4 separate regions of the Homo sapiens genome follow, and all the other regions are reported to be linked to region 3. Evidence: microRNA targets listed by miRTarBase, many of them from high-throughput screens and not tested one by one. Region 3 holds a microRNA gene; each other region holds the end of a gene's coding sequence.
Evidence for each region. Region 3 holds the annotated microRNA hsa-miR-4278 (CUAGGGGGUUUGCCCUUG, at 3,156-3,173, opposite strand). A microRNA usually pairs through its seed, bases 2 to 8, with sites in the 3' UTR of a target mRNA and lowers its output. Matches are read on the target gene's strand: a 7mer-m8 pairs with bases 2 to 8, a 7mer-A1 pairs with bases 2 to 7 and ends in A, and an 8mer does both.

Region 1: the mRNA of DUS2 is a reported target of hsa-miR-4278. Seed matches in the 3' UTR shown: 7mer-m8 at 5,972-5,978.
Region 2: the mRNA of AP1S1 is a reported target of hsa-miR-4278. Seed matches in the 3' UTR shown: 7mer-m8 at 1,058-1,064 and 7mer-m8 at 1,293-1,299.
Region 4: miRTarBase lists SMC1A as a target of hsa-miR-4278. Seed matches in the 3' UTR shown: 7mer-m8 at 5,880-5,886 and 7mer-A1 at 2,265-2,271.

The regions. Positions count from the first base shown.
Region 1 is chr16:68,078,132-68,085,246 of GRCh38, reverse strand. It overlaps DUS2 (dihydrouridine synthase 2), which reads right to left. Exons shown (of 17, transcript NM_017803.5): 16 at 6,729-6,802; 17 at 5,927-6,498. The coding sequence ends at 6,261. Among named protein-coding and RNA genes, the nearest start is that of NFATC3, 3.7 kb to the left of the region's middle. RefSeq lists a silencer at 1-40 and an enhancer at 321-400.
Region 2 is chr7:101,159,679-101,166,793 of GRCh38, forward strand. It overlaps AP1S1 (adaptor related protein complex 1 subunit sigma 1), which reads left to right. Exons shown (of 5, transcript NM_001283.5): 5 at 841-1,598. The coding sequence ends at 888. VGF (VGF nerve growth factor inducible) reads right to left here and starts at 5,891. Exons shown (of 2, transcript NM_003378.4): 1 at 5,696-5,891; 2 at 2,831-5,185. The coding sequence starts at 5,165. The coding sequence ends at 3,318. RefSeq lists silencers at 3,060-3,149, 3,710-3,759, 3,920-4,059, 5,822-5,921.
Region 3 is chr5:6,824,708-6,831,822 of GRCh38, forward strand. It overlaps MIR4278 (microRNA 4278), which reads right to left and starts at 3,214; the gene lies at 3,146-3,214. LINC02236 (long intergenic non-protein coding RNA 2236) reads left to right here. Exons shown (of 2, transcript NR_146281.1): 2 at 1,936-2,021. LOC105374641 (a long non-coding RNA gene) reads left to right here and starts at 5,056. Exons shown (of 3, transcript XR_925740.3): 1 at 5,056-5,103. RefSeq lists enhancers at 3,274-3,423, 5,621-6,122.
Region 4 is chrX:53,374,138-53,381,252 of GRCh38, forward strand. SMC1A (structural maintenance of chromosomes 1A) reads right to left here. Exons shown (of 25, transcript NM_006306.4): 23 at 6,881-6,950; 24 at 6,483-6,593; 25 at 12-6,049. The coding sequence ends at 5,966. Among named protein-coding and RNA genes, the nearest start is that of MIR6857, 28 kb to the right of the region's middle.

The sequences.
Region 1 (7,115 bases), not on the chromosome of region 3:
CGAGAAGGAAGGAAGTCACGTGAACACGCAGGCGCCCCCCCCCCCCCCCCCGCAGAGCCCAGCTACCTCTCGGGAATTGTAGTTTGGCCTGTATTCCCCCGGCGATTCCTTCTAAACCAGACGAGAGAAGGCCGTTAGCCTCTCTAATTGGATAGGGGACCACCACCGGCCAATGCAGAAGACCCTTCTCCTCATTGGGCGGAGCTCATGTCGAGGAAGGGGTGCTGAAGCACTGAGGTTCTGGGTTCGGTGATGTGGGGGCGCATCGTGTTACTCCTGATGGCTGGCTCTAGGGAAGGCATCAGGGCCCCTCAGAGTTACCTGGACGCCGCCCACATCCTCATCCCCCCACCTCAACTTTAATGGCTGAGTCTCCAGAGGGCAGGGACCGGACCGAGAGTCCAGCTAGGTTGGGGTGGAACCGAAGGAGACAGATTGCGCGACAAGTCCGGACTCTGAGCTCGCGGTCGCCGCAGGCCCACCCTCTGCGGGGCGGAGCTTTCGCCCCGGTGGCTGCGCCTTTGTCCCCACTAGCGGGCCCCCGCAGCTGCTCCCTTGACAGCATGCGCGTTTGAGGCCTCAGCGAACCCCAATGGGCAGGGCCTGTCCCTTGCTGGAAGTTGAGTAGATTGAGCGGGAAAGCCCGTTGTGAGCTCGTGCCAATCACAGCTCTGTGCTCTCTGCATCCTGCTGCATATCCATGAAAGCGGGAGGGATGGAGCCGCCTAAATTGGGTGGCTGGCAGTGGAGAGGAAGTGACACTGCCTAAAGAACCGTTTTCGTGATCTGCCCCTCCCGAGCAAGCTAGCCTTCCCGAGATGGCCCAAGACGCCTCCTCCTGGGGTCTGGGGTGAAGGCCGTCCTTGGGGACTGGGAGCCTGGCTTGTTTACCTAAGGCTCCGCTGAGGCGCAAGGTGGACAGGGACGTGAGAGAAGTAGGGTGACCGCCTCCCCTAGCTCCGTGCCCCGGGCATAGGGCCCACAGGGCATAGCATCCCTAGATGCGCGTTGCTGGAGGAACCCAGGGCACTGTCAGAGGCTTGGGTGCAGGTGCGCCCAAAAATGCTGCCCTCTCAGAGGCTACAATAGGTTAAAAAAAAAGAGAGAAAAAAAAAAAAGAAATGCCGCTCTCGCAAGGCCTACAGCACATTCCACACCGCCCACAAAGGCCAGTGGGAAGAGAGGGTAAAGGGAAGCTCTTTGCCGAGGTCTCAATGTCTGGACTGACACTTGAGCTACCAGGGAGCCCTAGAGGGAGCCAAACTAGACCTTGGGTCAGGAAGACAGGGAATGTCCAGGGCATCCAAGACGTTCATCTTGTATTGCTTCATTTCTGCCCAGTGTTTTGTACCGGTACCTGTGCTGTTCCTGGGGATTCAGAGATAAAGTCTCCCTTCAGGGGTAGGGGAGAGGGGACCAGCAAATCTATAATTACTGTACAAAGAGATGAGGGTTGTGCCAGGAGCTCAGAGACAGTTCATAAGCCTGCTAGCTGCAGGGCCTTGACAGGGGTTAGTAGGAACCGGAGTGACAGACAAGAAGTGAGCAAGTTTCATTCCAGGCAGAGAACAGATTTCCAAAGACTTGATAACCATAAAGTAACCTGCAGTGGGCAGAAGCCTAAGGTGGGGCCGGATGAGTGGGCAGAATGCTGCAGGCCACTGCAAAGTGTCTGGACTTTATCCTGACGGCAGTAGGGAGCAGTGGAAGGACTTAGAGCAGGGGATTTACATGGTCAGAATTCTGGATGGATCACTAGATTCAACTGGGACAGGGGTGAATGAAGTCAGAGGGAGAAGATAATGTGGTCAAGGAGAGGGAACAACTGGCATTAGACGGGTGGACTATCCTTCCCAATAACCTGTCCTGCCTGCAAATCTCCAACCTTGAGGGCCTGAGTGTGGAACTTGGGGCCCAAATGCCACATCAGCTCTAGAGCCCTCTGCCTCAGGCAGGTTGCTGGCCCACCTATTTGTACCACATGTAACAGGATCCTGATACAGTATAAGGTCCCAGAGGCTTGGCCAGCTCATCTGAAGTCCCTCCAGACATGACTTCACCTAAATCATGGGATCAGCCATAGTCAGACCAGACAGCAGGCAGGAGGGAGACCCTGGGCTGGTCAGCCCCTCCACTGGGAAGGGACCACAGAGAAGCTGTAGATGGCTTGAAAAATTCAACCACTCATCAAATGCTCAGCTATGCATCTGTCTTCCCAGCCACTGAGCACCTGGAGAACACTTAGAACAGATTACATTGTAGGGAGGGTTTCTGATCTCACCAAGGAATGGTGAGGGCTGGGACAGGGATGGGCACCAACTGCAGGAAGAGAGTCACCATGTGTGTAAGAAAGTCAGCAACGGCTGGGAACTCTGCAGCCTGTGAAGGGGCCTGACCACACACATACACCGATATGTACATACTCTTTCAGCCCTTTGCCCCAGCTAGGGCCAGTATGTACCCCCATGAGCTCTTCTTCAGGCAGTTCCAAAGCTCCTGCAGGTCATCTGGACCCACCTTCAGCCCTCTGAGAGCCCTGTGAAACCAGGAGGCCCACAGGACCAGTGCAGTAGGTGGAACCCCAGGGTGGACAAGGGCTATGTGGGTCACTGTACAACCACTCTCTCCTGTATGAATGCCACCCAAGACTGGGAATTAGGGAAAGCCATCATTATCATCAGCTGCCACAGGACTGTTCCCAAGCACCCATTGTTGAAGTTCTTCAGTGCCCTCTGAGCCATGGGATGGTACAGTTTAGCCTGCCCCAGTCCCTTGTTCCCCATTAGGCAAAACAGGAGCCTCTGAGGAAATTCAGAGTTTAGAAAAGTTCTTCCTCTCCATGCCAAACATCCCCCTCATCCCAAGCTCTGGTTTGATTCTTCTGTGCCTGCTCCCCAGACCCATGCCAAGGTAGCCACAGGGGACACAAGGACTGCCCTTGAGCAGCTCCCAATCTGGGAGGAGAGGATAAGACCAGCCAACTACAATCTCAGAAAGTTAGTTGCTGAAGTCAGCACAGGGTGCTGAGAAGACAGGGTCAGCACTTTGTCCTCAAATGCCAGGCTGAGGAGTTTGGACTTGGTCCAGAGAGCAGACTTAAGAGACCCATGGAAGAGTTCTGAGCAGAGTAAACTGGAAGGACCCAAGTATCCAGAACTGAGGGTGGAAGAGATTCTTTGCACACAGCCCAGTCTTCTTGCTGTGGCCTTTGAGAGACCTGCCACCCTCTCCAGCCTTACTCATCCCTTCCTCTCATGCTCATATCAAAACCATTTGTCCCCCAAATGTGATGATCTAAGGGGAAATCCTCAATCAGGCTGGCTGGAATGGATGGATAAGTGTTGTGGCTACTAGCCCAGGGAGAGGTTTGGGAGTCTAAGTGGCCCAGTTTAAGGTGGACATGGTGAGAACAATGGGCAGAGCTTTCAGGCCTGACTGTCCCCCTCCACCCCCCAGTCAGTCCCATCCTTGGGCAGGTCACTTTGAGACCAGGAAAGGCAACACTGAGGTATGCTAAAGTGAGATCATTTGAGGATTAACATATCCAACCAGGATCTCTGCCAGACATCCTCAGTCACAGAATATATAGTAGACCCACCCCACCTTCCTCCCCTGTAAAGGATTCTCTCCCCAGTGCTTCCCAGGGCCCTCAAAGCCCCCACATTACAGCCTCTATCTTAATAGCAGACCTGAATCCCTGCCTCTCCTTCCCCAGAGCCCAGAAATGAACCTGACCCTGCCAGAGGAGGGGCTTCCCCCAGGGAAACCATACTGGTGGGAGAAGTGGCCTGAGATCAAAGCCCAGTTCCACTGGGGAGGTAGGTCTTAGGACTCAGTGACTTGGTGGGGGCGGGCAGCACTGCAGCCTCTGTCTGACCAGTTCCAGTTGGAGTATAAGAAAAGGCAAAGGGGGCATTTTTGTTTTTTGTTGTTGTTTTTTTGAGACAGGGTCTTGCTCTGTTGCCCAGGCTGAAACACAGTAGTGCCATCATGGCTCACTGCAGCTTCAACCTCCTGGGCTCAAGTGATCCACCCACCTCAGCCTCCTGAGTAGCTAGGACTATAGGCACGTGCCACCACACCCGGCTAATTTTTTTTTTTTTTCGAGACAGAGTCTCACTTTGTCGCCCAGGCTGGAGTGCAGTGGCATGATCTTGGCTCACTGCAAGCTCCGCCTCCCGGGTTCATGCCATTCTCCTGCCTCAGTCTCCCAAGTAGCTGGGATTACAGGTGCCCGCCAACAGGCCCAGCTAATTTTTTGTAATTTTAGTAGAGACAGGGTTTCACCATGTTAGCCAGGATGGTCTTGATCTCCTGACCTCGTGATCCGCCCATCTCGGCCTCCCAAAGTGCTGGGATTACAGGCGTAAGGCACCGCACCCGGCCACACCTGGCTAATTTTTATATTTTTTTGTAGACAGGGTTTTGGCACATTGCCCAGCAGGCTGGTCTTGAACTCCCAAGCTCAAGTGATCTACCCACCTCGGCCTCCCAAAGTGCTGGGATTACAGGTGTGAGCCACCATACCCAGCCAAAGGAGGCATTTTGATTGAGATTGTTTTTAGTACGAAAAATCAGAAATAGGCCAGGCGCAGTAGCTCATGCCTGTAATCCCAGCACTTTGGGAGGGTGAGGCGGGAGGACTGCTTGAGGCCAAGCATTCAAGATCAACCTGGCCAACATAGCAAGACTCTATCTCTATGAAAAAAAAAAAGAAGAAAAATCAGAAATAAATTGTGCCTAAAGCTTGGTGGCTGAGACTGGACCAAGCCTCAGTCTTTCTCCTGAGTGGAGCCCTTTCTCGGGGAGCACTGGTCTGGGAAGTCAGTTAGGGCAGCCTGGCATGGAATGACCCCATTAACCATGCAGAGTCCTATCAAAGGGCCAGCCTACTGTCCTCCAGCCAGCCTCACACAGGCAGAGGACAGCGGATCCCCTCTAAGAGGAGGGCCCTCAGGACAGAGAGGACTAGAAGTGAGTTGCCCAAGGTCAAACAGCAATGAGCTCTGGGAGGCAGTGGGTAGTGCGGTATCCTTATCTGCACACAGAAAAGCAAGCGTGGGTGGCAGGGGGGAGGGGGGCGGTGCTGGAACTGAGACAGAGGCCTCACCCACCAAACCCTAGACTCAGAGGCCAGCAGGGCCAGAGGCTGCTGGCTGGCACAGGTGCCTGACCCTGTGTTAAAGTTGCCACAAAACAGTAAAGCTCTGACACAGGGGAGATGTGGGAAATACAGCTTTGACCCAGAGGGGACTCCTCCCCTCCCCACTCCCCAATGGAGCCTGGAAAAAGGGAGGAGAAGCAGCATGTTTACAGCTGAGGAAGCGGGGGCAGGACAGGGCAGGGACCTTTGGTCAGAACGCCCCTCCCAGTAAGCGGGGGAGGCCCCATGAGATGCGGTAGCCGTTTGTTTGCTTCTCACTGCCAGGAGGAAATTAAAGAGAATCTGCCACTTCCTTCCGCCCCAAGTGGGATGAGGAAGGCGGGGGACGGGAGGGACTGTGTGGTGTGATCTGCCAAACATAAGGGCCCCAAATTGCTGTCATCAGCCGCCTCCAGTGCCCCACTGTCCAAAGCAGGCACCTCATCAGGTCTGAGACTCCAGGCAGCTGTCAGGCTTGGAGACTCTGGGGATCAGACCAACACTCCCCACCCCACTGGACTAGTCCCTTACTGCAGCACCAGTTACCCTAGTCTTTCTTCCAGATTCCATATCACCTCTCATCAGGACATACAATTGATGCCCAGTGTGTCAGGTGTACCATCAGTAGAATGGGCTTCTTGGGCCTTCCTAACTTGGCCCAAGTCCAGTGATACCCCATTCCCCACCTCTACCAGACCCACAGAGATGGGCAGGAGATCCACTTTGGAAAGCTCAAGCTCTGCACAGAGGGTGGGAGTAGAATCATGCCAGGACACAAGCCCATTTATGAAGATGCCCAAGGCTGAAGCAGCCAGCCGTGGGTGAGGGTAGGGGGTGTCTTTATTGCACAGTACCAATGTCAGGTTGGGGAGTTACCACCTGAAAAGCTCCTGTTTTCAAAGAGAACTTGACCCTGTCACTCAGATCCACCAAAGGGGCCAGGATCCACCCCTGGGCGGCCCCTGGTCCATGCTCTAGGCTGATGGCCCCTGCCAGGACATCTAACTTCTGCCAGGCAAGACCAGCAAACTGTTCAACGGCATCTGGTTCATGCTGTGGCATCCACAGCCACCTTAGCACCAGGCCCATGGAGGGGTGACTAAGGCAGGAAGAGTAGTCACCAGCCTTCCAGGGGGCTTTCTTCACCACTTCCCAAGGCCACAAAGGGCTTCTTGCACAGATCCCCAGGTTGTGCTAGCTCCTGAGCTCTGGGGCCCCCAGGGTCTTGGTCAGGAGCCTCCCTCTTTCGCTTGTGCAAGGAAGGGCTCTCCTCACCCAGCCGACCCTCAGGGAGGCCCTGGCTCCGCAGACAGACGATGGCTGCAGCCTGCTCCGCCAGTTTCTTGGACTTGTCCCTGAGCAGACAGAGGGCAATAAGGTGAGGGGCAGGGTGCAGGGCTATGAGGCCTGACTCTACACATCCTTGGCAGATTCTGACAAGACTGAGTAAGGGGTCACCATCCAGGGATGCCACTGCCCACATATACCATCTACCCAACCCTCCTAGGACAATGCTGGATGTGTGGGCAGAATGCCCACTCTCCGCCCCACCCCAAGCCTCCTCTCCTATGATAAGGAAACTTACCACAAGGTAGACTGATACTTTTGTTCAGCAACGGTGACAATAGAGGAGAACAGGCGATCTAGAGGGCGTTGAACCTGATACAAAGAGAAAAGGAATCACATGGCCAGAGAAATGAGCCCTGTAGGCCAAACTGCTGGGGTCAAATCAAAGGCAGATAAAAGGAAGTGTTTCCAACCTAAGTCAAATGAAGGCTGCCTGTATCACATGCTCCTCCCAAGCAAAAGTGCCCAGTGGAGAAAGGCACAAATACACAATGACCTCAAGTGTCTGGAGCTGTCACAGACCTAAGCAAAGCGCAGCAGAGCCCTTAGCTGCACATGACTATGGAGCCTCCTGCTGACATCTGGATAGGCCAGGTCCCCAAAATGAGGAGTCACCAGATGCCAA
Region 2 (7,115 bases), not on the chromosome of region 3:
ATGGGGATTTGGGGGCTGGCAGAGGGCACCTGGATGTTGGTTCTCCCTGCTCCCCAGCGCCCCCGCCCTCACCCCATTACTGCCTGCCCCCTCTCTGCTGTGCCATCACCGAGCCCTGGTGCAGGGAGATGAGTCACCGGAATCTGCAGTGATGAGCGAGCCCGGCCTGAGCTGGCTCTGAGGAGGGGGAGAGATGGGGGGCGAGGGAGGGCTCATCTTTGCAGTGGGAGAGAGGGCAGAACTGAACTTGCCACCTCACTGGTCGAGCTTCACCTTCCCACACACGCACACACACACACCCTGGCGCGCACACACACACACACACACACATGCCCTGGCACACACACCCATCGTGTCACCAGTGTTGCGCTCAGACCCTAATGACGCATCTCCCTGCAGCCTGGTTCACCTTCCCTCAGGGACCTGGCACTCACCTCCCTCTGCCTTTTCCCCACTCTGAAAAACAGGACCCAGTCAGCTGTACCCCCCAGGGCCCCAGAAAGATCCCCCACCTCCTTGTCCCGGCTTCACTCCCTTTACCCCCAGGTGTCAAGGCGGGGCCCCTGCTTACCAAGGTCCTGGCTTTGGGTTCTCTGGGTGGTGACGGACTCAACCTGGACCCCCCCTGCCACTGTTGGCTGGCTCTGGGGCTGGCCCTGGGAGGCTGGTGGGTGCCCCATGAAGGGCTCACTGGTCCGGCCTTGGGCTCACATTGGCTTCTCTCCCCCTCCCCCGTGTCTGTGCCTCCCCCGTCTGACTCTTCCTCGTGACTGCTGTCTTGCCCACCCTGTCGGCCTCTCCTGGTGTCTCTGCGTCACCCTCTGTCTGTCTCTGCCTTAGGAGGATGAGTCGCCACGGAGTGTGCTGGAGGAGATGGGTTTGGCATAGCCCCTGCTGGGCCGGGGTGTGGCGATGGGGTCCTGGCAGCGTGGCGGGAACGGCTGCTTCTCCTCTGCCCAGGGCCCTGTTCTTGGTGGGACTCGGCTGCCCCTCCTCTGCTGCCTCACCTTTCGGAGTGAGCTGTGGGCTCAGGCCCTTCAAACATTCCCTCCCTCCACCCCCTACCTCCACTTTCCCCTTTTCCCACTGAAGGTTTTAGAAGCTAGGAGGCAGGAAAATGTGACCCAGATGGGGGTGCTATTTGGCTTTTATTCCCTGCCTTTGCAGAACTGATGTCACCCCAGATGTCCTTCCCTCCCTAATAACTGTAAATATATAAATATGTCAGGTTAAAGGGAAAAGGTGTTCAGGGCACTTCTTGTCCTCTCTGTCCCATAACCTACCTCCACCCTCCCCCTAGCCAGCCAGGCAGCTTCTCTGCCTGGGAGGGGAGCCTGGACCCCCCTCTTTCTCCTTGGCTGCAGTGGGGCCTTTATCCAGTGCCAGGGAGGAACAACATAGTTAATTTTTTTCTAACCTTGCCACTTTGAGGGAAGGAAGGGTTGGGGGAAGGGCAAGCTTTATGGGACCCTGGTCCTGGCCCTGGCCTTTCACTCCAGTTCTGGGTGAGGCAGGAGCTGGGAGGGGTGGGGAGGGGGAGGGGGAAGTGTCTGCCTTTATGTCCTTTCTTCTGAAATAAAAGTAAAAGCATTTCTGGACTTTGCTGGCCTTGGGCTCTGTGAAGGAAGGCAGGGCTGCTGGCATCATCGGGAGGCCAAGGGGATCCTGCCAGCCTTGGGAAGAAACGGAGAGCACGCAGTTAAATGAGAATTCCAGATACACAACAAATCATTTTAGGGATAAATGTGTTGCATGCAGTGTTTGGGACACATTTAACTCTAAAACTGCATCTGTTGTGTATCTGGAATTTCAGATTTCATTTCCTGTATTTTATCTGGCCACCCTACCTTAAACGGATTTTTATGCCCAATGCGTCTCCAAACGGGCTGCCCCCAACTCCCTGAGCTGCCTTTATGGAAGGAGGAGCAACTCTTCAGGATGCGGGTCTGTTGTGGGTGATTTCGTTTGCCCAGTTTAGTTTTATTTGAATCAGTTCACAAGTACCTGCGATTAGAAAAGGCTTAAGATGGGAGGCCAAGGTGGGGAGGTCGCTTGAGCCCAGGAGTTCCAGACCAGCTGAGCAAGCTGGCAAAACCTCATCCCTACAAAAAATGCAAACATTAGCTGGGCATAATGGTGCACACTTGTAGTCCCAGCTACTCAGGAGGTTGGGGTAGGAGGATCACTTGAGCCCAGGAAGTCGAGGTTGCAGTGAGCTGTGATTGCACCACTGCACTCCAGCCTGGGCAACATAGTGAGACCCTGTCTCAAAAAAAAAAAAAAAAAAAAAGTTAAGAAGTGGCTTTAGCCAGCATGTCTCTGTGGCTGCCACTCCCTCCTCCCCGCATTTCTTGCAAAGTACCTAGGACCAGGAATGTAGGGATCAGTGGAGGGAGGTGGGTGGGTGAACACAGGAAACTCCGGCATTACCCGCGCGGCCCCAGGATCTTGGGAAAAAGGAGCCCACTGGCACCCAGAGTTGTGGCACCTTCTGCGGGTCGCCTTTTTCTTTTGAACCAGAGGTCGCTGGACTGATCGCAGACAATTGGCTCTTTTATTGCATTCCGCTGGGCCTCTCTCTGTCAAGCCCTGGGGAAAGATGACTTTACCACCAGCCCCCAAGCTGGAAGTGGAATTTCGGGTTTCTTAATGGGTGCGAGCCACATTCTTCTCCTCTAAAAACAGTTTGAGGACTTTCCCCACTTACCCCTTGCCTTAGTTTGGGGGCAGGAAGCAGGAGGAGACGGGGACTGTGGCTGGCGCTTCCCTCACCGCCCCTTGGGAAGGACCACACAGGCCCAAGGGGACGGGTGAATAACCGAGAACAAAGTCCTAATAAAATAGTCACTTTTATTTCTTAGCAAAACTATTTCCTCCGTGAGGGGTATTTACAACAGAGAAAGGAAAGAAGGGGTCAATTCACAGCGACTTGGAGAGGCTGGAGGGGCTCGTGGGAGGCCCGAAGGGCTGGAGACAGACACACTTCACACAATTAACTGGAACTGCTTTTTCCGGTTTCCGACGGGGACGTCCCCAGAGGGACTTGATGGGGCCGGGGCCCCGCGTGGCAAGGGAACTCGCACAAACCACCCGCCCTCCTGGGCTGGCCCCCGGTCACCCGCGGGTGAGCTCTGGGAGTTCGGGCTCAGGACCCGGGAGGGGGGTCTGGCAGGTCCCGACGCAGCCCGGGGACAGGGGCAGGGCCAAGGGGCAGGGCCGGGGCGCATGCAAACACCGAGGGGGAGCGGGCAACACGGAGGGGGGCGCCGGCGCGCGCGCGCGGCGGGGGCGCGCGGGGGCGGGACCGGGAAGGGCAGTCACGGGCGCCGGAGCAGCACGTGCTCGATGTAATTCTCCAGCTCCTCCTGCTCCTGCAGCCGGCGCTCCTCCGCCTCCGCCTCCTCCTGCGCGCGCCGCGCCTGGGCCTCCCGGCCGGGATAGTGGCGCGAAGGCGGCAAGGCGTGGTGGTAGTGGCGGCGGCGCAAGGCCGAGGGCGGCTGCAGTGTCCGCGGCCGGATGTAGTTGGGGAAAGGGTGGTACGGCCCTGGCGGGTACACCTCGTCCTCCTCCCGATCCCAGGGCGGGAGCACCTCGTTCCAGTCCGGCAGCTCGTCTCGTGCGGGAGCGGGGGCGGGGGGCGGGGGCTGCGGGGAGCGGACGTGGGTGGGGGCGGGGGCGGCACGGGGGGGCGGCACGGGCTCGGGAGGGGCGTTCTTCTTCCGCTTCCGCTTCTCCTCCACCTCCTCGATGATGCTGACCACGTCGTCCGCTGGCAGGTGGAGTTTGGTGGACAGCTCAATGAGGCTGTCGATCGTCTGCGGATCCATCTCCTCGTCGTCCTCCTCCTCCCCGCCCTCCTCTGTCCCCTCGGCCTCCTTCCGCCGGTGGCCCGGCGTCTCCTCCTGGGAGCGCTTGTCCTCGGCGCCGGCTTCCCCGTCCTCCTCCTCCGCGAACAGGAGCGCGTTCTGCCGCGCCCTCTCCGCCTCCTCCGCCTCTGCCTCCGCCTCGGCCGCCTCCTCATCCTCTTCCCCCACCCTCTCCTCCCCGCCGCGTCTCTCCTGCTCCGCCTCCTCCTCCTCCCTTGCACTCTCTCGCTCCTCCGCCGCCTCCTGCAGCCCCCGACCCCCGAGGCCGCGCTGCCGGGCCCCGCCCTGCAGCAAATACTGGAGCAGCAGGTCCGAGGCGAGGTCGGCCAGCCGCTCTTCCTGCGCCGCGGCCTGCCGCGTGGCCTCCGCCTGCCGCCGCCCGGCCTCCACCTGCGCCAGCCCTTGCTGGAGAAGGCGCTCGCCCGCCTCGGAGCCGCCCAGGAGTGCGCTCTCCGGCCGGCGCGCCTTGGGGAACGGGGCGGCCACGCCTTGGTACGCCTTGGACAGGGGTGCCAATGCCTCGCCTAGGTGTGTTTTGGGGGAGGACACTCCTTCCCCGAACTTGTGGGTTTCGGGAAGGGGCCCGCTGTCGGGCATACGCGCCTGGAATTGAGAGGGGGCCGGGGGCGGCAGGGGCGCGCGCTCCGGGACACGCGCCTGGAACTCTCCCCAGGAAGCGCGCCATACGCGCTCTGGCCCCGGGCTCTCCAGATTCACTCGGGTCAGCGTGTGCGTGCGGGTTTCCGTCTCTGCTGCCGCCGTCTCCTGCTGGCGCTTGGCGCTACTTGGACTGAAATCTCGCAGTTCCTGGAGCAGGGACGCTAGCGCCTCGAGCTCCTCGGAGGGATCGCTCGCCTCGGGCCCATTCTCCGGAGTCTGAGGGCGAGGCGGAGCCGCGGGCTCCGGGCTCTCCGGCGCCGGGAGGCTGTGGGTCTGGCTGCGCACGGTCTCGGTCAGCAGAGCTTCAGCTGCTTCTTCCTCCGGCCCCTGCTGGGAGCCGCTTGGTGCCGGGGGTGAGGCGGGACGGTCGAGTGCCTGCAGCAGCACCGCGGCCAGCGCCCGGGGATCCACGCCCTGGAAAAGCTCTCCCTCGTCCTGCGGCTCGGAATTCCGAGCGCCTCGGACCTCTGGGGCGCTGCCATCCTTTGGCCCGGGCACTGCGTCCCCGGCTACCGGCTCTTTATGCTCAGAGCTGAGAGGAGGAGGCTGCGCCTCAGGGCGACCAGGGGGTGCTGCCCCTAACCCGTTGATCAGCAGAAGGCAGAAGAGGGCGGAAGCCGACAATCTGAGGGCTTTCATGACCAAGAGGCTGCCGGAGACTGAAAAATAGAAGGGACCAAAAAAAGAGGATTTCTGTAAGAATTCCCCTCTCTAGGTCTACGTTCCCTTCCCCCACCTTTCAGCAGGAAACCCGGGGCTTCCCTGATCCCCCAAACCTTACCCAGAAGAGGAACGTTTAGGAGCAAAGGAGGAAGATGTTGTGCCGATCTCTGGAGCCGTGTAAATGGGAAAATAACCCCCGAAGCCCTCGCTTACCCAGGGCCTCCTCGGCCCCTTCCCTGAGCCATCTCACTGCCATCGCCCACGTACTAAGCAGCAGCAATATGGGGGAAAAAAAAATCTCTGCTCCCTCCCCGTAGGACTCCCCGGATGGTGCGTGGGCGACTTCAGCAGCAAGAGAAAAAGCTGCGACTCCCCCGTTTACCGGGGACCCTTACCAGGGGGCTCCCCGCTGTGTTTGCAACACCCCCATCGAGAGGAGAGAGAACCCTCCCTCACGCCCACGGCTGGCTGCCGAGGGTTTGAGGGACGAACAGCGGAGTATTTACCAGCTGGTGTCACGACGCGAGAGGTGGAGAGGAGGGTCGGGGCAGGGTGGGGACAGGGGAAGATCGGGACGCGTCCGCCTCGGCTCCGAGCGGTGGCCGGGGTAGGAGCGACGGTCGAGGTCTGGCGTCCCGTGGGCTGGGCTCAGCTGGGTCGGCGCGGCTCCGGGCGGCTAGCTCGCTCCGGCTTCAGCACGCTGGACAGCGCCCGCGCCTCCACCGCCTTATAAAGGGGAGCGCGCGGGGTCACGTGGGCGCGCCCCGCCCCATTGACGTCAATGTTCATTCATGGGGAAGCGGGCGGCCGCCCGGAGGAGGAAGGACGCCCGACGATTGGAGGGTGCCTGCCTCTCCCGGCCTGCGCCTGCGCGCTGGGGCCTTCGGCTGAAGGGGTGTGCGCTAGCGGAGCTCCGGGAAATGAATGAATGAATGAATGAATGAAATGCTGAAGCGGGCAGGGCGGGGGGCTATGAATGAATGAAGGAGGGACGAGGAGAAAAGGATGAATGAATGAATGGGAGAATGAATGGAAGGGTGGATGCAGAGGCGCTGGAAGGCGGGAGGGTGGGTTGCAGAGCAACTTGGAGCTGCTGGATGGAGCCCGCGTTGCTGAGTGGAATAGAAAAAGGGTAGTCCCAGCGTCTGACTGGGCACCAGTGGGAGCTCAATACTGGGGAGGGGAAGGATAAAGATTCAAGAGCCGACCAGGGGGCCGGGTTCCCCACCCCGAGACCACGCGCCCAAGGACGGCGTGAACCTGAGTGCAGAGGGACAGATCTGCACGCCTGCGGGCGCTGTCCGCGAATCGGCAGTGCGGGTGGCAGCCCCCTGACAGGGGCAGATGGGTGGATCTTGCGGTTTTGGTAATCCCATCGGGAAGGGTCCGAGTCGGAAGAGAAAAGGGAAAGAATGAGGATGTGTGTGCCTCTGGGTCGTGTCTGTTTCACGATCCGTGCTGTGTCTGGAGAAAAAGGTGTGTCTGTCCTTCTGTCCCCTGACTGCCGCTTGTGTCAAGGCCCCCCGCTGTGCCCCCTTCGGCCCATCTCTTCCCACACTCCCCCAGTCGCTTTCCCTCCTGCCGCTCCCCTCCCCCAAGGACGTTTGGAGGGCGAGACCAGAGCAGGTGGGGAGGGGGTTGCGCAGGTGGGGGGGGGGTGACTCAACTCCAGCTCTCTCCACCGCTTAAAGGGAAGGTTTGAACGCGATGGGAGGGGGACCTGCAACGTCAGAGATAGCCCCTCTCTGCCACCAGCCCCTTCGACCGTATCTCCTGCCAGAGAGGTTGGGGCTGGGGGCTTGGACAGCTAGAGGTTCCGGGGGTGGGGGGCGATGACGCACAGATTTGCGCAAAGAGAATCCATCAGAGAGCTGGGTCCGGTGAAGGGAGACCAGCCGTGGGCGGGGGTGGGGGGGAGGACGGAAA
Region 3 (7,115 bases):
AAAAAATAAAATCTATTAAAATATGTACATATGCATGCAACAATTCTCTATGCAATTAAAAATAATATAGGGACTTTAGAATAAACCATAAATGCCATTTACTCCTTTAAGTGACCCCTGACAGTTTCCTCCCTAGAAGGAGCCACTATTAACAATCATGCCTGTATCTCTCTAGATCCTTTTCTGTGCCTTCACATGTACTTACACGCACACTCACACGCACTTACTAATGCCCTCACACACACAGACACATGAACACATCCATACACACTCACACACACAACTGTAAAATGTAAACAGGATTCTACTTTACATGTTCCCTTCATGATTTTTCTAACAATCTTCAAAACCTTAACATGTCAGAACATACTATCAGAATTCATTCTTTTTCACTGGTTCATCATGTTACTCGTTTCCCTCTTGGGTTGTTTTCATCTTCTTGAGTAGTTGGCGATTCTTAAACATATACCCTGAATATCAATCTTTAGCCTATGGTATATGTTGCAAATATTTTCTCTTATTTTTCTAATTTTCCCTTTTTTTATGGTGTTCTTTGGTCACAGGCATGTTTTAAATGTTCATGTAGTGTTTCCTTTGACTTCTGAATTTTGTGAGCTAGAATTTACAAAATTCTATATTTACAAAATATTCTATATTTACAAAATTCTAGCTCAGAGAATCCTTCCCCATTATAAGATTATGAAGCTATTTTGATATTTTCTTCCATTCTTTCAAAATCATTTAGAATTTACTTTTGGCCATGGTATATCTAATTTTATATTTCTCCTTAATGGATGGCCAGTTACTTGAAAACCATTGAATACATGGAGGAAAGCATTTTTCCACACTGATTAAAAAATGCCACCTTAGTGATATGTCTAGATTTTCTGTTTAGTTCTATTGATTTGTCCTTTCCTCCATAAACACATTATGTAAATTTCTATAACAAGACAATATGTTTTGATATCTGGCCTATTTCCCTTAATTGTGTGTTTTAAATCAGAATTTATTAGTTTTTTTTTTTTTGCATTTATTTACTCTGCCAGATGAATGTGGGAATCAGTGTGTCAGGTTCTAAAAACATACTGTTGTAATTTTGGTCAGGATTGCATCGAATATGCAGATCAAGTTTGGGAACCTTGGGAACCTCCACAGGTGTTTGGATACAGATCTTGCACATTTCTTGTCAGCTGCATGTCTAGGCTTTCTGTTCCTCTCGTTACTGTGACTGGGATCTTTTTTCCCCTATTGCACTTTCTACTTGCTGTGACTAGTACATATATAGAAAATTGAGTCAGTGTAATTCATGTGAGTGGCGTAACAGTCTTAAAGTTTCAGTGCTTTAACACCTGTATTTCTTGCTGATGGACAAGTTGCTGTAAGCTGGGCCACTTTCATCTCAGTAATGCCTTAGCATGCCGGTTCTTTCCACTGCAACCGTGCCGAGTGGAGAATTTCTGGACTCTCTTCCTTAACATTGCTGACTGCACTCTGGCCCTCCCTTTCTGAATGCATCTCTTTCTTGTGATGGTTTTCCAAGTGGAGCTTTCACAGCGCATGCTACTAACCTCTGCTCTTCTCCAGAATGACAAAAGCCTCTGGCGTGTGACCTATGCTCCAAGAAATAAAAGGCAAAAGTTTCACTAAATATTTTGCTGCAAGAAAGTGTTGATCCAATTTTCCAGTCTTAAATATCATTTGTCTTACCTCCTGACACCCAGCTGCTAGAATAATACTATGTAGTTTAGGTTTTATTATTTTTTAAAAAATCAAATACCTTGTTTCCAGTCACTAAGTTCTTATTAGGGTAACTAACACAGGCTGATGTCACAAACAACCCACAGATCTCATCATTGAAGTGATTTCTTTCTCACATCATAGGCCTCTAATGGACTTGCTCTGATTTTGAAGGTGTTTTCTCTTTGTCTTTTCTAGGAAGTTGGGGATGAGAGAGGGGAAGGAGTAGCATCTTGTTCCGTCGGCCTCCTTGATCTAAGCCTTTGTTGTGAATTCGTTTTTACCACATTTAAAGTGTGATGCCCAGAATGGAACTCGGGGCTGCTGGCACCCCCATCCATCTTTGGAGGCCCTGGACATAATCGATGGGGCAGGCAGAAGACCTGCAGCTCCAAGCCTGCTAGTCGGTGAGCCTGGAATTGCTATGCTCTTAGGATCATGTGTTCCCACTGTGAATGCTTTTGGCGGCTTTTCCCACTGGCCACTTGGTCATATCCATACCCAGACTGAACCAGCTCTGACCCCAGGCCCTCCCCACCATGCCCATCCTACCAGGGTGCCCCCGGCTGAGGCTGCCTCTTGAGGCCACACCCTCCACCTGTATAACCCCAGCTTTGGAGCCTGCGGATCCTGCCTGAGCTGCTCTCACCCTTTGGAAACCAAGGATTGAGCATTGTTCCCTGAGTGTATTTCTGGTTATGACTTTCTCTTTTCTCCACAGAAAGGCATCTCTCTGCAGGTATTGGGTTTTCTCTGAGCTCAGCTGCTGCTCTTGGCCTTCTTTCTCCAGTTTCTGTCCTCCTCTACCAGCCTTGAGACTGCAGTGTGGAGATATGTCGCCTCTGTTTTGTCTGGGCTGCTTCTGTCTGGGATGATGGAATCCTCACTAAATGGGAAATGTTTATGGAGGAGGAGGGAGATGGGGAAGTCATTCCCTCCTGTTAACATTTCGGCTTAAGTTAGCTTATTCATATGAATGACACAAAGTCGTAATTGCTCCTAATCAAATCTGTGCACACAGTAAAGCCTCTTTTATGCAATGAGTGTTTACTTAATTGAATGTTACATATAAATGAAGGTTACTCCTTCAAGTGACAAACGTGAGGGATTTCAATGGAAAATTCTGAAAATGAGCCCCTGAAGGAGGGAAGATGGGAGATGAAAGATGCTGGAAGAGAACAGAATGGGGCCAAGACGCTCCAGGAGAGCACCGGGGGAATCCCAGTTGCTCTTGGGTTTCACTTCCAAGGGCAAAACGATGATGACAAATTGCTTTCTGAGAATCCATCCCTCTTGCAGGGACTTTCAGCCAGAGACTTGTCCATAATGGGCTCTGCATCATGTCAGAGCCCTAAACCATAATTAAACACCATTGCATTTATTAGAGTCCTCATGATGTTACCTTAGATTCTTCCCCACAAGGGCAAACCCCCTAGTGTTGATGTCAATGTTCTATGGGATTCTCCTGGTGTTAGATGATTACAGTATCACGGAAACGTGAGGCTGCATCTGCTAAGTAACGTTTCACTCCTGTGTATCACAGAGGTTCTTCTCTAAGCCCCACCCACAGGAGAGCCAGACCTCTGCATCACAGATCACATGGAGAAACTGAAACAAATGCTGACTCTCGGGAGGTGATGATAGGACTCGTTTCCTTATCATTTTTTCAGAGCCCCAGAAGTTTACAATGATAAAAACAAGAGCATTTCATGAAACAGCATGCAAAAGCCCATGCATGCTGTCTATTTTTATATAAATCAGCAGAAGATAAAGAGCTTGTCTTGATTCATGCTGTTCCTCCAGGGAATGTTTTGCAAAAAGGCAAAAAAAAAAAAAAATCAGGGAGAAGAGCGAAGCCTATAAATACAATTGGAAAGGAAAATAAAAACAACTCACTAAACGTTGAGTTTGACGAAAACATAACAAAACCAAGGAACATTTTTATGTTTTTTTCCTTTCAGTTTTACTTTTGATCATGTTTCTTCCTGAGGTTTTATGAATATATACATCAAGTGGGAGAGATAAAAACCCCAAATAACTGTAGAATGATGAGAATGTAGGAAAGAGAATGTAGGCCCTTTTATTCCATGTTATTTTTCTCAGAAAAATGACAGTTCAACCTTTCCCCTTCTGATTGTCACTGGAAAGCAGTTTTCATCTGAAATGAAATGAGTGAGGATCATGAGTTTGCCTGTATGTCTTATATGAAGCCAGCGCTGTAGTGTCCTCACTTACAAACCCGTGTTTCAAGTTTACCCCTCAATTCCTGAAAGTCTGAAATTTTAGAGGGACAAAGGAAAATTAAGAATTAAGCTAAAAAGAGTTAAATTGTGGTTAACAAACATTTCTGTAAAAGGGGCGGAAAGTAAATATTTTCTGCACCGTGGGCCACAATTCAACCCAGCTCTGCCATCGTAGCCCAAAAGCAGCAAGAGACGAGATGCAAGCAGAGGGGGCAGCTGTGTTCTAATACACTTCATGCATATGCACATGTCAATTTCACATAATTTTCACATGTCACAAAATGTTAACATTCTTTTGATTTTTTTTTTCAACCATTTAACAGTGTAAGAATGATTCTTAGCTCATGGGTTCTATAAAAACAGGTGACAGCTGGATTTGACCCATGGGCCATACTTTACTGACCTTTGTACTAAATCATGCTCTCGACCCAATTTACCTTTAAAGTTGTTCTGATGAACATATTTCAACATTCAAAAATGGTATGTGGATTCATCTGTTTTACTGAATACTTTTACTTTTGATTACTGATCTCTGTCTTGGTTAAAGATGCCAAAAACTTAGGCATGACTCATCAGGTGTTCTACCGTGACCTTGGCTCCCAGGCCAGGGAGGATGGCATAAATAGGGTCAGATGGCATGTTGTCGTGGAAACCATAATGATAGCAGCTACTAATGAAGCAGAACTGACTGTGTGTCTGGAACTGTTTGAAGGGCTTTAGAACACTAGCCCAGCTAGTCAACACGATGAACCTAGGAGAAAGGTGCTAACATTCTCATTGTGGACATAGAGAAACTGAGGCACAGGAGGCTGACTGACCTACTCAAGATGATGTACAGTCCAAGTGAGAGCATCTGCTCCCACACTCGGTTGGGCCAATCCAGGCACCACACTGACTCATTCCACTACAGAAAGGAGAGTTCTCCCCTGCCAACGACTCATCCTGAGAGAGCAGAGCAATGAAGTGAAACTGGGATGAAAATCATGAGCAATGAAATGAAATGAAACTTGTAGAGCTGCTTAATTTAAGAGTAAACAAATTCTGCCTTAAATGCCAAGGCTCCTGGCAAGTGACAGAAACCCAACATTGACTAACTGAAGCTCGCCTAAGTGGGACGACCAAGGTGAGTGTCCCAAGAGCTGAGCCCAGAGACTAAAGCACTGTCCTCAGGATGCCCCCTCCATCCCTTGCCACCTCATGTCTCTGCCATCTCCATTCTGCTTTTCAGGTCAGTCTCATTGTTCCTCACTACAATGAAACAATGTTCAGGTGGTAAAAGTTGCTTCTGACAGCCCTACCCTAGAAGCTGGTAGGTCAAATCATGAGAGTAAGCTCGCCTTCCCATCCAACTCCAGGGAAAAGTCCAGGGAGCTGCTCCAGTGACCTCCCAGTGGTGGTCAAATGCCCTCCGAGAGTGAGTGCTATGGGTGCTCTGGTGCTATTTCCTCAGCCTGTTATGAACTCAACACAATACCAGGGAGAGGTAACTGCCAGTCCCACGGACAAATGGATTAGGAAGAGAATTCCCCAAAGAAGGGACCCAGGCACGCTAGAGCCAGAGAGGATGGGCTCCTCAGTTGGTGTGACTGAACTCCAGGGAGCCCAGAGTAAGAAAGGACCCTTGGCACCCTCCAGGAGACCCCAGATAAGCCCATAACAAAACTTCATTATATTTCAGCTCATTAAACTGGCTCAAAGAGAACCAAAATGACAGCAAATGGGTTTTTCCCTAGCATTAGAATCATTGTATGAAGTGGTTCTGGCTAAGCTCTAGCGCACAGGTTTTCAGGTAGACTTTCCATAATCAGATACATGTACACACGGACACTCGCATGTGCACACGGGCATGCACACACATGCATGCACCATGCACACACACACATGCACGCACACACAGACACACATGCATGCACCATGCACGCATGCATGCACACACAGACACACACCTGCATGCACCATGCACACATGCATGCACACACACACATGCATGCACCATGCACACACATGCACGCACAGACACACACATGCACGCATCATGCACACACAAGCACGCACACACACACTCACACATGCACGCACCATGCACACACGCATGCACACATACACACGTGCACGCACCATGCACACACATGCACACACACACACAGACACTCATGTACGCACCATGTGCACACACACGCATGCACATGCAGGCACACTCACACATGCATGCACCATGCATGCACACATGCACACGCACACACAGACACATTCTTACACATGCATGCACCATGCAAACACACATGCACGCACACACAGGCACACTCTCACACGTGCACGCACCATGCACACACACATGCACGCACATACAGGCACACTCTCACACGTGCACACACCATGCACACACAGGCACACTCTCACACTTGCATGCACCATGCACACACACATGCATGCACATACAGGAACACTCTCACATGCACCACCATGCACACACACATGCATGCACACACAGGCACATTCATGCACACACAGCTTGCACAGTGTCTGAGTCATAACAAAATAGGCTATGTCTTGAAATCTCAGTGGCTTAATACAGCAACAATTGCTTCCTCACTTGCATAGACAGAAGACTCTGGGAGCTTCCATCTTGTGACTCCATACACTCAACACATAATTCCTTGATCTCCAAGGCAAGAAAATTATGCCCACTGTCTTTGAACTTCCATTTGCCAGCAAGGGCAGGTTTACACACCTCCCCCCAACCCCATAACATGACAAAATGGTAAAATGATATGCACACACCTCAGACGATGAAACACCCTTTGCCATCATTTTGTTCTCTTTGAGCCAGTTTTCAATGAGCTGAAATGCAATTAAATATTGTTGCAGGCTCATTCTGGGTCTCCTGGAGGATGCCAAGGTCCCTGGCCCTCTCAGATCTCCTGGAGGTCAGTCACACCCTCGAACTCCCCATCATAATCACCCTTATTTCTAACTAAGTATGTGATGGTTAATTTCATGTGTCAACTTAGTTGGGTCCCAGTGCCCAGATATTTGGTCAAACATGGCTGTGGATGTTTCTGTGTTTGGTGTTTTTTGAATGAGGTAAACATTTAAACAGGTGCACTCTGAGTAAATCAGATTCCCTCCCTAATG
Region 4 (7,115 bases), not on the chromosome of region 3:
ACACACACAGGTTAGTGATGGGGATTTATTAAAGCATTCACAGGGAAATAAGGAAGACAAGAACAGCTACACAGGCAGCCTCATGGAAGAACAGAAACTTGAAAATGGTTCATGATCCAAAGCAGCTCTAGAGCCTGGCTTATCTTGTCACCCCCTCAGCTGCAGGCATCTGTTGCTCCCTTCTCTAGTGCTTCCCAAATTGGTGACTCAACTCCTTTCTGGCTGTATTTATACTCCTCCTACTGCTACTGACTAACTTCTTTCTGCCCCCCTCGATGCTAGCCCATGGCTTTTTCTGCCTCATGGGTCCTGCAGCTTCATGGCTCCCGGCGCTTCAGTTCCTATTAATCCATGGCTTTTCTGCATTGTAGCTCCTGCTGCCTCTTCCATTCCTGTTGCCATGTTGCCACATGGTTCTGGCTACCTTGTGGTTCTTGCAGTCTCATCGCTTCTACTGTCTCATGATCTTATCTATTCAAGCCTTCTGCTGCTTTGTGGATCTCATAGTCAGTTTTGTCTCACGGTTTCTGTTCCTCGTGGCTCCTATTGCTTCATGGCTTCTAGCCCATTGTTGCCTTGCTGCTTCATGGCTTCTGCCACCCTGTGGCTCCGTGATCTCATTATACAAATGTCTCATGACCTCTGCTTACTTATGGTTTCTGCAGCTTTCTCTTTGCTTTTGCTGTTTAGTTTCTGGCCACCCCTCATCCACCACCACTAATGCCTCATTAAATTCTAATTAACGTTCACTTCTTCTGAATAGCTCACATTCTGCCTCCCTGAAAGATCTGGTTGTTTCATACATTTGCCATTTGATACATGCCACCCCTGTAAGGTGAAGTCCTTATGCCAGTCCAGCTAACAGGCCACTGGCCAGCCTAGAGATTGGTTGCCCTTGAACCAGACACTATCCACATCTAGCTATCTGTGGCCAGGATTGTGAGGTCACATGGTACAGAGCATGGCAACTTATGCTAAGGAAACCCCTTAGAAGGGACTGCAAGCATGGCAGGTTTGCTAAGGGTTTCCAGAAGGGGGCAGTGTAATTGGCAACCATCTTGTTTGACCTGTCCAATACATTGACCTTCAAGGTTCAACCTAAGTCCCACCTTCTCCCTGACCACCTCTGCCTGTCCTGATCTACAATGGGATAGATCAAGATCAAGACTCCAGAGATGACATAGAAAGGAAACCTAGCTTCCATTTCTGGCTCCAACACTTCCTAGCAGTCGGACCTTAGGAAGTTAATTCCCCTCTGAGGACCTCAGAAGGGGTTTGGGCAGTCTTCCCTTACAAGTCTGACATTCTGGGTATCTCACTATAAGTTATTGTATAAGAGATGTGACTCTTACCTGGGAAAGCCCTCAAAAACATCTCTTGAGGTAGGAAAGAGGGAGTCAGAGTCCTGGCTTGGAAGAGCCTTACTGCACACTGGAGGTGCTTAGCCAAGATTTATTGAACTGGATGAATGAATCAATGGCTTGTGGAGGGGTGGGGAGTGGGGGGGCAGTGAGAGACCACACAGCACACAGAATGTCTAACTAACTTGAGGAATTCCAGTTGCTGAGGAGGATGTAAGCAGATTGTTTCAGAGATGGATAAGGAAAGAGATGACTGGGACAGGGTAGGAATCATGGCTATTCATGGGTACTCATTCTATCCTCTCAGTCACCCTCCACATCCAATAATCAGTCATTAAGTTATCATCTTACCTTAACAGTTCACACCTTAACACCTCCAATCTATTCCTACTGGCCTTTGCCCTAGTGCAGGCCTCCTGGTCTTTTTCCAGTCTCCTAGCTAATCTTGTCATCTCCATTCGCTCTCTCACAAATGGATTCACTCATGCATTCATTCATTCAAAAACTTTACTGGGTGCCTGTTTTGTGTCAGGCACTGTGCTTTTTTGCAGGGGCTATACTGGTAAGCAAAATATCCCCAGGCCCACCCTTGTGGTGCCTAAAGCTTATTCAGAGACAAAATAAGCAAATATAGTAGTGTAAGAAGCTGATTAACAGGGAAGCTACAGGCACGGGCACATACAGCATGAACATCTAACCTAATCTGTTTTCCATGCTGGTTGGCTAGCCAGCCAGAAACAGGTTAAGTTCACATCTGATCTGGAGTCCCCCTATTAAAAACCATTTCATGGCTCCCTCACTGCCTTCAAGCTATGGTTTCCAAATCTGGCTGTACCCTAGTCATGTGGTAACCTTTATAAGCATTCAAGATTCCAAATCTTCACCCCAGACTTAATGAATGTTTTAGGGGCCGGGGCCCAGAATGCCGTACCTGTTTGTGGTATACAGCCAGTTTGGGAACCACACTGTCCTACAAAACAAATCTGAATTCTGTAGCCATGCATTTACGACCCTCTTCCAATCTGGTTCCTCTCTACCTTTTCTTGCTGCTTTCCCCCCACCCCAGGAATCTTCATGCTTCAGTATTTGTTTTGCTGTTTCTTGCCTTCATGTCTTCATGCATACTGTTTCCAATATCTGGAAATTCCTTCTACTTCCTCAACTGGCTAATTCCTACCCGTCCCTCAAGACTCAGTTCAGGTATCACCACCTAGACTACAGGATGCCTTCTCTGAATCTTCACATAAGCTAGATGTTTTTCCTGTGCTCCTGTCAGTGTTGATCACACTGTATGGTTAATGGCTGTTTTACAAATGGTTTCCCCAACTAAACAGTGAGCTCCTCAAAGGCAGGATAAAGATTTGACTCATCTTTGTGTTCCTGGTGCACAACACTGTGATTTCCAGAGGGAAGTGCCCAGTTAAACTTAAGATACTGTTGTGGAGTACTCTTCAACTCCCTACAGCAAGGCTACTGCGTCCACAGTATAAGGGAGTCAAACTAGTTCCTCCAACAAGCCCTAGGGAATCTACTCGGATCCAGCTTGCTCTTGGAAACACTGTGGTGCCCAGCCTCCCGTGAGCATAGCCTTGACAACGGTTGCCCTGTGATGCCAGGAGGTGGTGGGGCACGACAGGAGAGAGCAGGGGGCAAGCACTAAATAGATCCGAGTGGAAGTCTAGGCTCTGCCACTAAACCAGTGGAATCTTGGACAAGTCACCTCACCTCCTGGATCCTCAGGACTTAAGTCCCCAAAGCTCCTTTGTAGCACATGTGTTCCTGTGTGCCAGGGCCTTAGCCTAAGGCATCTCATGTAATCCTTTTTATCCTGTGAGGTAGGGGTTAGTTATCTGGGTTATTATCCATGCTGGCTGAATCAGATTTCCAGAGGTGGGACCAGAGCAATTTATTTTTAAAGAGCTCCACATCCTTTGGATGTGGGGGTGCAAGCAGGGAACTGCTGCTTCTCATTATAAGCCCTTCTGTACTATTTTATTTTTTTACCTGTGTATATATTGCTTTACTTTTTAAAAAGGAAAAAGAAAAAGCTTTACAAACGATTCTGATGCGCAGCCAAGGTTGATAACCACCTGTACAGTGGAGAAAGCACTTGAATGACTTGGAAGACCTGGGTTCAAACCTTTTTGGGCCTCAGTTTCCTTATCTGTAAAGTGGGGAGAACAGCAAAGGTGACCTTTAAAGGGCTGTGAATGATCTAGATGCCAGCCAAATTGCTTCATATATATTTAATTTTCTCTTTGCTTCACTACTGCAAGGTAGGTGTTTATTATCTCCTTTTACAGATGTGGAAACTTAGGCTCAGAGGTGAAGTAACTTGCACAAGTTTCTACAGCTAGAATTTGAACCAGGTCTGACCCCCGAATTGTGCTCGTCCATAAAGGCCAGCATTTGCCAAATTATGGCACACAGTACCACCAGTGGTACGTGACTTCTTTGGTTGAAAACAGACAAATTTATTTTGTTTTGATAGTTATGTCTTTTAATATGTATTAGAAGAATACATAATTAGCACACATCAAACCTGTGATTTCACAGATATCACTACTTGGGATGAAAATGATATAGGATAACAATGTTAGACCTCAGATCAACCTCAAGAAAAATACTGAGTAAATAGTACAGGAGGGCAATTTGGAAGTATTATTAAAAACCAATATATAAATATCCTATGACTTTGCAATTCCACTTCTAGGAATCAACCCTAGGTAAACTTTCATACATATACTTTCACACAGGCATAGTGATGCTCCTGTGTAGTATTTTGTAATAGCAAAACCTAAAAACAGTCTTAATGTCCATCACAAAAGAAATGCGTAAGTAAAATGTGGTAATCATATGATGACAATCTATACAGCAATTACAGAAGATGGATTGAGCTACATTAAGTAACATGCACAGATCTCAAAAACATCGTTAAGCAAAGAAAACAAATTGCTAAACAATTCAATATATCATTTGCATTAAACACACAATATTTCCAATGAGTTCACATATGTACGTACAAGCATTAAAACAAAGTCTAAACGGAAGTACAACAAACAACAGCCACTAAGAAGGGAAGGATCAAGGAGTGGTTGGTAGCTGAATGAGACTATCTTTAACAATCTAACTTCTCAAAAGGAGAATGAATTCATGCATATTTGGGTAATTAGAATGGACTTAACTTTTAAAAAGCAATATACAGATTGGAATTAAAGTGTGATGGTGTATGTGAATGAGTAAAGGCTGAGCTCATCGCACCCGGCTTTGCTGCCTCTGCATGATCCTTATAGCTAATGAGGTTAGTTCCTAAAATGAACCTCACAGGTGTTAGGCTGGGATGTGGCCCAGGATACCTCTCCCCTATTTCCTCACAACCCAGATTGGGGCTCAGGCACCCGGTTACCAGACATGATTGAAGCTACAGGTTTCCTCAGGCCCTCCGCTTACCAGGTAGACCCCATCAGTGCCCTGAAACTTTCCCAGTCAGCAGGGCATTCAGCACCTTCCAGATTTGGAGGCTTCTTCTGTCCCTAATAGCTGGGATCAGAAGCTCTCAGGGGTCCAGGCATGAGGGTTATATTCTGAGGGGTCGGCACCTAGTGGGCTCCACGAAGGGATAAGGCCTCCAGTGAGGAGCTTGACATCATTAAATCCTATGAGGTAGGTAATATTGTTAGCCCCATTTTACAGATGAGGAAACTGAGGCACAGAAGGTCAAATGACTTGCCCAAGGTCAAACAACTAGTAAGTGATAAAAAGTGGGACCAGAACCCATAACTGTCTGTCCCCAGAGCTCATGCTCCACTCCTAGTGCCTGACCAAATCCTACCAATTTGTCAAGGTCTAGCTTAAATGTGACCTCCAGGAAGCCTAGAGGGGATCACCCACTTCTCAAATTCAAAGTACATATGACATTCAGCTAACTATAGTCATTCATGAACCCACTGTATCTCCTTACTAGGAGGGTAGAGATCATGTCTGATTCAACTCTGTATTCCAAGCACAGAGCCTGACAAATAGAGGGTGTTCGGTATGTGTCTGATGAATACATAAATGAATGAATACACAAATGAGTGAATGAAGGCAGTTTCAGGTAACTGCCTAAGACTCCTATGAGGTCCTGAGTACCTTTGCCCAGCTCAGGGGTGCTGTCATCCTAAGCTCTCTTGGAATCAAATTCAGCCTAGGCTCCTTCTAAAACAGGTCTCCAATATCCTTTATTATTTTGCAAACATACTCACATGCACACATGCGGATACATACATACACACATACATACCCACACACACAGTGGGCAAGAGGCCCAAGGGGCCCACGATTATGGGTGATGAGGGGGAGGAAGGGGGTGTGTGTGATGAACAGATGGCCCTGTTCAGCTCAGCACCTCCTTTCAGAGGCCAGAATACTCCCTGTCGTTCAGGAATTTTTGCTCCAGACCTAACATCACCTCTGTTCCTCTTCATGCTTGATTAGCAGTGCCTAAATCCCATGACTACACCAAAAAGGGCCAGGAGGTAGGGGGAAGGTTGGGAGTCAAATATCCAGAGATTGGGAGAGGGACAGCTTAGGGATCCAGACAGGGCGGGAGGGCAAAAATACTGCTACTGCTCATTGGGGTTGGGGTTGGCATCTGGGTACTTGGTGAGGTCGAAGGTCAGGACTTTGCTGATCACACAGTCCCCTTGCTGAAGGAGGAGGGAGAAAAAGAAAAATAAAATTGTAAGGAGAGAATTAAGAGGGGTCTAGTGCCCCAGGACCAGGGGCCTCAAACCCTCCTCCCTACATACCTGCCCAAAGCCCAGTCAATGGTTCTCTCTGGGTGTGAGAGGATATGCTCAGTCCCATGTGCCTTCGCTCCTTGCCTACTTCTGTACTCTCCTCCTTTCTCCACTGTCTGGCTGCCTCTGCCTGCCTTTCCACCTGTCCCCAAATGCAATGGCCCTGCCTGGCTGGGCTGGCTAAGCCTCCAGAGGCAGGGCTCCAACAAGCCCAAATGGCCATTCAGGACCTGATTCCCTATGCTCCCCCACCTCCTTTCCCCTCCACTGCAGCCTTCCTTTCCTGCCCTGGGAAATCAGGCAGGGAGTAGGACTGGCTCCTGAGCCAGGCCCGCCCTACCTCAGGATAGACTCCAATGAGGCTCTCGGCCTTGGTGTAGAACTCCTCCTTGAGAGAGATGACGATGGCCTGGAAGTTGCAAGTCGACTGCTCCTTGATGTAATTTGCCACCTGTGGGAAAGGCCGCCAGGCACTTAGCAAGGCTCAAACCTTAACAGTCCCCAGTATTTTCCAGCCACAACCAGAAGGCAGAAGAGGTAGGGTAGGGAGAGGAAGGTGGGGAAAAGAGAGGTTGAGAGGAGACTACTGACTACCACAGCATGGATGACTCTGGGCCCAGCCTCCCAGGCACAGAGAGCAGGCAGCAGGAACGGCTAGGGCACGCTCAGGAGTTGCTCCCTGAAACCCAACCCCGACCTGGGGGCATCCCTCCCAGGCCCCACTTTCTTTGCACCCACCTTGCCAATGTTGGTGTTATCCAAGGCAGCATCAATCTCATCCAGGACGAAGAAGGGGGCTGGCTTGTAGCTGGGAGGGAACCAGTAGGTGAGCTGACACTGAGGCGGGGAGGGGGTGGCAAGGCGGGGTGGGACAGCCCCAGGGCCCATCAAACAGGCCAGCTTCCCACTCCACTTCTTCAGAAACTAAAAAACCCAGGTCTCAAAGTTGCCTGAGCCCCTGAAAGCCAAGACA